Homo sapiens: one gene and its partners. The protein of the gene in region 3 purifies or fractionates together with the protein of the main gene of each other region. This does not show direct contact. Each region holds a gene or a part of one and is shown on either strand. Other genes may lie near its edges. The genes, in order: ME1, PRPSAP1 and ASB9.

Region 1 (3,654 bases), on a different chromosome or scaffold from region 3:
ATCCCAGCACTTTGGGAGGTCGAGGAGGGTGGATGACTTGAGGTCAGGAGTTGGAGACCAGCCTGGCCAACATGGTGAAAGCCCATCTCTACTAAAAATACAAAAATTAGCTGGGTGTGGTGGTGGGCACCTGTAATCCCAGCTACTCAGGAAGCTGAGGCAGGAGAACTGCTTGAAACTGGGAGGCGGAGGTTGCAGTGAGCCGAGATCGTGCCATTCATTGCACTCCAGCCTGGGTGACAGAGCGAGACTCCATCTCAAAAAAAAAAAAAAAAAAAAAAAAAGGCATTAACTAGGGCCTGTTAGGTGCTGCATTTCATATTGCTAATCAAAAGAACATTTGTCTGTGATGGTGAGAGTGGACATCTAGTTGAGAGTATTTAGGCTTCAAAGTAGGAATCAGAAACCCTAAACAAATAAAGCATCACAGTCTAAGAAATCTATTTGAAAAGTCTAAAGCATCAAATCCCCAAGGCATAGTTTAAACGATGACAGAATGGGTTTTAACTTTCATATCTCTTGGATCTAGAGTCTAAATAATGATATTAATATTAACCTATTTTTAGCAAATGTCATAATATACCTTTTAGTTGTTCTTAAAGTTGTATAACAGAAATTCAACCTTCTTTGAGAGACAAAAAGATGAAAATAGATGAGGCAGAAAAACAAATTCTCATCTAGCTGTTTATAAGACACTGTTATGTTTTGCACAGAATTCGGTTTTGTTTTCAGACAAGTCTGATACCTTAAGCTCTTTAGCAGATAAAACATTTTGTTATAAACAACTTTCTAATGTAACTAAATTATTACTTCATATATAAAGGTTTTGGAAAATTATATTTGAGAAAGAGGCCTGTAACATTATATATATATATATATATATATATATATCTCCCCCACTCCTGCACTCCCACTCTTCCTGCCTTTCTATAATCACCATATTTTAAGGAGAAATGTCATTAAATAAATGACAGTACTGTAGCTAGCTAAATATTCTCATATATATATGTTATTAACATGGTGAAGGGAACCTTCCCATACCATTTTTAGATTATATTTTTATGGTTCAATAGTCTTTCTGTATATTGTAACTTAACCTTTCCTATCTTCACCTGTGCCTACAGTAGCAGAAACTCACATCCAGCAACAGGCAGACCTTTCCTTTTTCTCCAATCCTTTAGCCAAACCAGTGTCTAAATTTTCATCCTCAAAATAACTTTCAATGTTTTATGTAGAAAAACATAGAACATTAGGCAAGATGATAAGAAAGAGTTGAGGCATACATTTATATCAGACACATTCAAAGTTTAAAATACAACTACATAAATTTGGCTAATTTTGTTTATGTGTGTTATAGATAAGTCTCTTAACCCTTGAGGCCTGTTGAGATATATTAAGACAAAATAATTAATTAAACACTTGTTTATTATATGCCTAGTAGGTGCAAGGCATGATGCTAAGACTTGGTTGTTGCTGAAAGGACTTTTTTTTCCTTTAAGGATTTAAGGACTACTGAATAATGTGAGGCAAATTCCCCAATCTAGAGATGAGATAAAAATTAAAATCAGTGAGAACACTGATGCCATCCCAAATAAGAGAGATAAACAATGGAGTGGCTCCTTGCCAAAAAGAAAAATCACTAATTCTAGTATTGAGCATTTAAGGATATATGATTAAAATAGAGCCATTAAGTTCCAGTTAATGCAGAGTGACATAGCGTTCATGTTTACCTCTCTAGTTCATTTTGGATTTCTTTCCAAAATAAACATTTTAGATAGATATGACTCAACCTCTATTTTGTTGTAATGATATTTTAAAGTCTTTGAAGGGAAAAAAGGCTCCTTTCAGCATATCAGCCAAATACATATTAGTACAAACATGGTATAAAATAAATCATAGTAAAATGTTGAAGCATTGAGGACTCCTATCCCAGTCTGGCTGGATGTCAAGATAGTTGCCCAAATGTTCCACCCATAGTACCAAAACCCAAACCCAGGATTTAGCAAAGCAAAAATAAGGTTGTGGTTTTACATTGTATGCTTCAGTGTTTGGGAATAGCTAGTTAAAAGCTATTTTAATAAGCCTCTAGAACCAAGCTGCTTCCTTTCTATTTAACTTTTATGTTTAAATCTTAGATATCTATTTCCAAATCACTTGTGGAAAATTATCAGTAAAACATTAAAATATGTATTTTATTTTGTTGAAGAAGAGGATTTATACAACATTCTAGAAAAGGAAATAGTTCTTATCCCTCTGATTTGTGTGCTTTTCTTTCCATTTTGGTTGTATAATTTTTAAACTTAAACAGTAAGCACCTTAGATATCCTAGGCCTCCCTATAATGAATAAAAATTTGATTATTAAAATATCTGTTATAGTTTTACTTTACCTTGGTTATTTTGTAGCACTGCTCTGCAGAACATTCTGCTTTGCTAGTTGGATTACTCAAAGCAAAAATAATAGGCCGTTCATTGAAGGCAGCCATATCTTTGAGAATTTGTTCTGAGAATGCACCACCAATTGCAGCAACTCCTAATGAAGAAATATGAAGCTGGTAATTAACACTATCATTGGTTAATTCACACAAGAAGACCATGCCTCAAATCAATGATATCTATCAGCTCATTTTCTAATAGACCCTAAACAAAATGCTATATAAACTATTTGTATTCAAGTATAGTGACAAAAAGAGGCAAGTTTGTTAATGCCAACAATCCTTACAATCCTTAGGGTCACAAATCTACAAATATCTATTAAAAACTAAAGATAATATTTGGCTTCCATAGTACATTGAGTTAGTTACCAATCACTTGGAAATTTGTATCTAATGTGTAAACTTTCTTTATAAGCAATTCTATGAGTATATTTCAGTCTTGTCAGGCTACAAAGCAATTAAGTTTTATAAACCAACGCTATCACTTAAGACAACCATCTGATTCATCTGCAAAAGTAAAGTACCACCCACTGAAGTAACTTTAACAGAAGAATAAAGCAATTAGCATAATGGAAATGAAAAACAATAAGATTATTGACAGAATATATTTTGTAAAAACAATATTAAACACTTAGTAAAGTTCCTGTCATGGAGTAAGTACTTCTTTTATTGTAGTTATCATCATTATTTTCAACGTTGTCATCTGTTTCACAAGAGCTTGTAGGAATGGAGTATAATACAAGGTAAAAATCAAAATTATATATGCACAAAATAAAGAATAAAGTTTCATAAATTCCTTTGAGTTTTCTAAAACCACTTTAAAGTCTTGCACTGCACATGCATTGTGTAAGTACTGTATTAAGTGCTATAAGGAAAATAAAGATTTGTGAGATGTGATCCCTGTCTTCCAGGAGGGTCTTATCTACTGCAGTATTTCTCAACCTCAGCACTATTGACATTTTAGGCTGGATAATTCCTTGTCGCAGGGGCTGTCCAGTGCACTACAGGATATTTAGTAGAATCATTCCGCTGCCTCTATCTGCTAGATGTCAGTAGCCCCTCCCTTTACTCCCTTCCAACCCCGCTACCCTAGTTAAGACAACTCAAAGCTTCCAGACATTGCCAAATGTTTCCTGCAGGGCAAAAATCCCTCTTATTTGAGAACCACTGTCTATCTGGAGTAATCAAGCCTAGAAAAGTGCTGAACGTGCCAGGTATTAA
Region 2 (3,654 bases), on a different chromosome or scaffold from region 3:
CTTAACATGAGGTAGTATTAATTACAAAGAGGAAAAAAAAAAGAGTAACTTTACAGTGGAGAAACCTGCCAGAGAAACCTTAACCAACTTATCAGAATGCACATCACCAGTAATGGGACACATCATGTGTTTCCTGTGATTTTCTGCCAAAAATGCATAACCTGAATCTAATCCTGAGGACACAAACAAGCCCCAATTAAGGGAGAGTCTACAAAATCACTTGATCGCACTGTTCAAAAGTATCAAGGTCATAAGAAACAAAGAATAAAGCAGCCACTCCAGATTAAATGAGACTAAAAAGAAATGACAACTAAATGCAATGTGTGACCCTGGGTTAGGTCTTGAACAAGAAAACAAGTTTATTCTTTTGCTCTAAAGGACACTGCTGGGACCACTGGTGAAACCTGAGTAAGGTCTGTAGATTACAGTGTTACAGCAATGTTAGCTTCCTGAGTCTGATAATGATACTCTGGTTATATAAGAGTCTTTTGTCTTTACAAATATACACGAAGGTATTTAGGAATGAAGGGACATTACGTCTGCAACTCACCCTCAAATGGTGGAAAAAAAAAAACCCCATGTATATAAATGTTAAATTTGGGGACTCCGAGTGAAGAGCATATGCTGGAAATCTGTACTATTCTTTCAACTTTAAGTCTAAAGTCAGTTGAAAATAAAAAGCTAAAAATGCAGATTACGGCTTGGCACGGTGGCTCACACCTGTAATCCCAGCACACTGGGAGGTCGAGGCAGGCGGATGACCTAAGGTTAGCAGCTCGAGACCAGCCTGACCAACATGGTAAAACCCTGTCTCTACTAAAAATACAAAAATTAGCTGGGTGTGGTGGTGTGTGCCTGAAGTCACAGCTACTTGGGAGGCTGAGACAGGAGAACTGCTTGAACCCAAGAGGCGGAGGCTGCAGTGAGCCAAGATCATGCCACTGCACTCCAGCCTGGGCGACAGAACGAGTTCAGTCTCAAACAAAATAAAAATAAATAAAAATAGGCCGGGCACGGTGGCTCACACCTGTAATCCCAGCACTTTGGGAGGCTGAGGCAGGCGGATCACAATGTCAAGAGATCGAGACCATCCTGGCCAACATGGTGAAAGCTCATCTCTACTAAAAATACAAAAATTAGCTCGGCGTGTTGGCGCGCACCTATAGCCCCAGCCACTGGAGAGGCTGAGGCAGGAGAATTGCTTGAACCCGGGAGGAAGAGGTTGCAGTGAGCCAAGATTGCACCACTGCACTCCAGCCTGGCGACAGAGTGAGACTCCATCTCAAAATAAATAAATAAGTAAAAATAAAAGTTACCTGATCCCCAAAGCCTGGTATTTGATCAACAGCTGTCACCCAGCTTATGATAATGTAAAAGCTTAAGATTTCACACCATCACACATACAACTTTTTTACTGAAGCTAAAATTATCAAACACCGTCTGAATGCTGAGTGCTACGCAGAACCGTCCATACACAGTCTACAAATGTGTATAACACAACTTCCTTTTACAAAAGAGGAAATCGGGCCTGGCATGGGGCTCATGTCTGTAATCTTATGTAATCTCGGCATTTTGGGAGACCATGACAGGAGGATTGTTTGAGCAAAGAAGTTCAAAACCAGCCTGGGCAATGCAGGGAGCCCCGTCTCCATACAAAAAGAAAAAAAAAGGAACAGAAAACTATCCAGGCATGGTAGTGTACCCCTACAGTCCCAGCTACCCAGGAGGCGGAGGTGGGAGAATCACTTGCGCCCCGGTCAAGGCTGCAGTGAGCCATGACTGTGCCACTGTACAGAGCAACAGGGGGAGATCCTTTCTCAAAAAAAAAAAAAAAAAGGCGGAGGATAGCAAATACCATTCCATTATTAAAAAACAACAAGACAGCATATATCTACATAGTCGATAACTCCTAGCCATTCATACTACTTAAAACTTTCTTCAGGGCCAGGTGCAGTGGCTCATGCCTGTAATCCCAGCACTCTGGGAGGCTGAGGCGAGCAGATCACCAGGTCTGGAGCAGATCACGAGGTCTGGAGTTTGAGACCAGCCTGGCCAACATGGTGAAACCCTGTCTCTACTAAAAATACAAAAATTAGCTGGGCGTGGTGGCACACACCTGTAATCTTTGCCACTCACGAGGCTGAGGCAGGAGAATTGCTTGAACCCAGGAGGCAGAGGTTGCAGTCAGCCAAGATCACGCCACTGCACTCTAGCCTGGGTGACAGAGTGAGACTCCATCTCAAAAACAAAACAAAACAAAACAAAACAACAACAACAAAACCAACAAAACCAACAAAAAAAAACTTTCTTCAATTTACAAATAAAATAAAAACACAGAGCTCATCTTACATGGCAACTCCAGGCCTGGGTGCACAGTAGCATTTTTGACCATAGGCGGGGAGTGACGACCATCGTCCATGTCCAGTTCCGTGCACTGAGCTTCCCCGTGAATGACGGCCAAACCCAGACGCAGTCTCTCCGCATAGGACTGGGCCCTAGAAGGACAAAGGGAAATGGTGAAACTGACAGGAAGAAATCCCACGCATCACTACGGCATCATTTTTTAACCATAAAATGAAAATATTTAACGTTTCAGGGACATACAAAGGCATTATTTATATAAATGAGAATGTGAGGCCCAGGCCAGCATGTAAATGACTCAAAGGGCACGTGAGTTAGGGTTTGGGATTGTATCTGATTCTAGACATTTTTTTTTTTTTTTGAGACAAGGTCTCACTGTCACCCAGGCTGGAGTGCAGTGGCGTCAACATGGCTCACTGCAGCCTCAACCTCCTGAGGCTCAGGTGATCCTCCCACCTCAACCTCCCGAGTAGCGGGGACCACAGGCATGTGTTGCCACAACTGGCTATTTTTTGTATTTTGTAGAGACGGGGTCTATGTTGCCCAGGCTGGTCTTGAACCCCTGGGCTCAAGCGATCTCCCGCTTTGGCCTCCCAAAGTGCTGGAATTACAGGCGTGAGCCACCCCGCCTGGCCCTGATTCTAGATAATTTTGATTCTATCCTTTGTCCAATATTCTGATAGTCATCTTCAGAAGAAAGAACAACGTTAAAAACCATTGCCTGGGCCGGGCACAGTGGCTTACGCCTGTAAACCCAGCACTTTGGGAGACCAAGGCAGACAGATCACTTGAGGTCAGGAGTTCAAGACTAGTCTGATGAACATGGTGAAACCCCATCTCTACTAAAAATACAAAAAACTAGCCAGGAGTGGTGACAGGCGCCTGTAATCCCAGCTACTGGGGAGGCTGAGGCAGGAGAGCTGCTTGAACCCAGGAGGCGGAGGTTGCAGTGAGCCGAGATCGCGCCATTGCACTCCAGCCTAGGTGACAGAATGAAACTCCATTTCAAAAAAAAAACAAAAAAAAAAACCATTGCTTGAAAAATGCTCATAGCCTCATTGCTTTCCTTTCTCTGAGAACTTGAAGGAACTTTGTTTTCCCAGAGGAAAGCTGAGCAACTCAGCGATCATGTGTGCTGTCTGGAGGCTGGAGATAAAGCTGTGTGTGGCATGGGACATGACAACGATGGAGGGGTTAACATGAGAGCCAGTGGGCTTTCAAAGGCCACGAGTGACAGCCTCTGGATTCCAAAGCAGCTCATTCTGACTTCGGGAGCACTCAGGAGGGATCAGG
Region 3 (3,654 bases):
GAATGTTGAAACATGTGACTGATCATCTGTGCTAGAAACGCTGTCAGAGGCAACCGTAGGAGGTACTGATAAAGCATTACAAATAACAAGATCTCAGAGCAGGCCTGATAGAGAATTAAGAAAAGTGGGATGTCACAGGAAACTCAGTGTATTAATAACTACTGATGCCAACTGAATGCTGCTGTTTACTACAAGTAAGACAATGTAAAACAACTGTAGCTTCAAGTCCATAGACACAGAGCTGAAAACCCACTACAGATTTGCAGTCACTTGCTGGCACCTGCAAATATTCAAGGGGTTTGCTTTGCTCGGTAATAAAACCAGCTAATTGTGTATTTATGAATTGGCATATTCCTTTGGGCCTTGATTTCTTTTTTCCCCCAGCAACAACCATTGATGTTTTGTTTTTTGTTTTTTGAGACTGAGTCTCACTCTGTCGCCCAGGCTGGAGTGCAGTGGTGTGATCTCAGCTCACTGCAAGCTCCACTTCCCAGGTTCACACCATTCTCCTGCCTCAGCCTCCCGAGTACCTGGGACTACAGGTGCCTGCCACCACGCCCGGCTAATTTTTTTTGTATTTTTAGAAGAGACGGGGTTTCACCGTGTTAGCCAGGATGGTCTCTATCTCCTGAACTCATGATCCACCCACCTTGGCCTCCCAAAGTGTGGAGATTACAGGCGTGAGCCACCGTGCCCGGCCAGCAACAACCATTGATGTTTTAAAGCCAAAGTGCACTGGGTGAGGGGGGATGGGGGCTGCGGTCATGTTGGGCTGACAGTCATTTCTAGGTTTTAATTGAGCAAACACTGCTTTAGATGCTTATCAAGGGTGAGGTGGCAATATTCTTAAAATCTTTTCCCTTTTCTCAGAAAACGGGAAAATCTTACCTTTCCTAACACCCACGCAAAGCCCAATTCAGAACATGGTTGGGTTTTACCAACATTCTCCTGTTGCCATACCATTGAAAGAGGACAGTAATTGAATAAATTCCCTTCCCCAGGAAACGGAGAAACAGGTGGACTGAAGCAAATGAATGTAGGGGCACCCAGAGACAGAAACTGCTGTGAGCAATCCACAGGTCTAGTTTTCTGCACTTTCCTGACCCCATTTCTTGTGGGCTCCGAGCCCTCTGAGAGGTGACTACACCAAAACCCCAAAATTGACTCATGGAGGCAAAACAAGTAGTGATTCTCTCCAGCAGCAAATGACACCTCATAAACTAGTGGGACCATAGGCCACACTGTCACCGTGCAAAACGTAAATTCAAAATTAAAGTAATTACTGTCTCTAGGAATGGCTTTGGGAAATAAAGCAGAAGGGAAAAGCCAGGGGAGGCAATTTGAGAATGCTATGAGGTTGTTTGATGGAGGAGGGGACATATACATCCTACATTAACGTATGCCCTACGTTATGACTGAGGGGGACCTGAGGCACTTTTGCCTTTATGAATCCCTTTCTCAGTGAAAACAATTAAAAATTCTATTTCACAACTGTGTTGGTATAAAGATGATTACAATCCATGTTGTTCTATTCATTTTTTATTCTGATTGTTTAAAAATTAAGATATTTTTATGGGCCTCGTAGACATAGAACTTTTTCAAAACAAGTAATTATTAAAATGCAGATAGAACTGCTCCATGATTATCCCACTGCTTAACTGTAAGGGGCCTCTACTGGACTGTTCCTTGTCCAGGCCTGGAGTCAATCTTTTCTGCCTGACCAGCACTGCTCAGGAGCATAGGCCTTGTTTGGCATGCCCCCAGGCAGGGACTTGACTGCAAGTACCCTGGGGCAGTGAGAGTAGGAGGAAGAAGGATTCCTTAGCCCACTTTACAGTTCTGCCCAAAGCCAACCTTACTGCTCATCATGTGGGGAGAAAATAACTAGATTGTATAACATCAGAATCCTTCTGGTAGGAAGGCCTGCTTCAAAGTCCCAGAATCCCTAAGACTTCAGAGTCCATACTCCGGTAAGAAAAGAAGTACTGAGCTGGTTTCTCAACTGCCTCTGAGCCCATGAAGATTGCAAGAGGTGGCTCCCCAACTTGAGGTGTCTTTGTTCCCCAGCCCAGCCCAGGCCTCAAAGCCCTACTTCCATACACACTGCTCAACCACAATATTTCATTGTTCGAGTTGGGAGTCTCAGTTCTTACTTATAGAGAAGTGTGGACTTATCATTGGTTAATTTATAATAGTAAATATCTTTGGATTGGTGTGAACCCTAAACTCTTAAACAGCTGCATTTTAAGCCCAGAAACGAAGTGTCCAGTAGTCTGGCCCATCTGTGGTTCAACAAGATATCCTGCGGCCTCTTACAACCCCAAAGAGGACTCTGCTGCCTCATTCTAAAGCATGTTTTAAATAAATGTAATACTAAAATTTTAAAACAGTATCTTAATTTTTAAAAAACTGGCCTACCCCATAATGAATATTAGATCATCCCAAAAACCTGTATCCAATATGCTAAATAGCAGGACAGTTATTTACTGTACTGTGACCAGTACTGTATCTCATTGAATATTGAATTATCTCAACTTCCCAGATTTGGTGATGTCAGAGAATGATCTTTTTATAGGAATGGGAGCCAGAAATTGCCAAATACCTGCCTTCTACTAGAGCCCCAAGGGATGTCAACAGATTAGGGCTTAGGTTTTGGCAAAGAAGCACCTTCTCTCTCCAAGAAGAGCTGGGCCAAGGGGCTCTCTGGAGGCACCAGCTCCACAGGACGTTTGCCTTCAGCATTCTTGGCCTGGGTGTCCGCTCCAAAATCCATGAGCAGGCAGGCCAGCTCTTCACTGGCTGTCCTGGCCACTGCATGAAGTGGGGAATCCTGACCTTTCCCTTGGTTCACGTCCGCTCCTAAACAGTCACGAGAACAAAAAAGAGTCAGCAAGGAGCAGAATCCAACCATCGGGGCTTTTCAAAGCCCCGAGCCCCAAAATTTCCTAACAAGAGGGGATCCATATTGAGCACAGCAATCCTGGAAAAATGGGAGATGATGTGATTCCATTTAATAATGTGGGGAAAATCCCACCTGATAATGTTATTGAATGTACAGCATGAGGAATATAGCATAGAAAGTTAAAAATTTGCCTTTCAGCACTGTACATAGATAGGCATGATGCATATAAGAAAAATCCTAGTGACATAAAAGCTCCACATTATTATTAATGGAACCTAAGTATTAGCCAGTACAGCCTGACGGAGAGACTAGATGGTGAAATCCAGCCTACACCAAGCAGCCAAACTCACCTGGTGTGCAGCTGCCACAGGGTGTAAAACTGGACACTTGGGACTGGTGATTTGGACTTTGAAAAGCAACCAACCAACTCATGGGGGTATCCCCTGGATTGGACTGGCCAATCCCAAGATCACAGGGAAGGTGGCAAAGTTCTCCCTTTCAGGAGTAAGGTGGATTTCTAGGACTGTCCCCACCCAATTCCACTCTTACACTCTTAACAAATCCCCACCCCAGCCCAGAGCCTAGCTTTCACTGTGACATGTGGGAACATGTGGCTTTGCCTGAGCTGCCATCCCTCTGGTAAAATGAAAATCTATGTCCACTCAACAAATGTTAACTGATCTGGTCTTGTATTGTTCCTGACTTTGTGAGGGATATCAAACATGGCCCTTTCCAGGCTAGAGGCTTAAAAT

The links.
Region 1: the proteins of ASB9 (region 3) and ME1 purify together in Homo sapiens (co-immunoprecipitation; one large-scale study listed by IntAct). This does not show direct contact.
Region 2: the proteins of ASB9 (region 3) and PRPSAP1 purify together in Homo sapiens (affinity purification with mass spectrometry, with the first as the bait; one large-scale study listed by BioGRID). This does not show direct contact.

Annotation. Positions count from the first base shown.
Region 1 is NC_000006.12:83,224,947-83,228,600, forward strand, and holds part of ME1 (NADP-dependent malic enzyme), read right to left. Parts: intron 2,532-3,654; coding exon 2,389-2,531; intron 1-2,388. UniProt on the Homo sapiens protein: Catalyzes the oxidative decarboxylation of (S)-malate in the presence of NADP(+) and divalent metal ions, and decarboxylation of oxaloacetate.
Region 2 is NC_000017.11:76,326,368-76,330,021, forward strand, and holds part of PRPSAP1 (phosphoribosyl pyrophosphate synthase-associated protein 1), read right to left. Parts: intron 2,496-3,654; coding exon 2,350-2,495; intron 1-2,349. UniProt on the Homo sapiens protein: Seems to play a negative regulatory role in 5-phosphoribose 1-diphosphate synthesis.
Region 3 is NC_000023.11:15,246,077-15,249,730, forward strand, and holds part of ASB9 (ankyrin repeat and SOCS box protein 9), read right to left. Parts: intron 2,860-3,654; coding exon 2,668-2,859; coding exon of another isoform or gene 2,639-2,667; exon of another isoform or gene 2,607-2,638; intron 1-2,606. UniProt on the Homo sapiens protein: Substrate-recognition component of a cullin-5-RING E3 ubiquitin-protein ligase complex (ECS complex, also named CRL5 complex), which mediates the ubiquitination and subsequent proteasomal degradation of target proteins.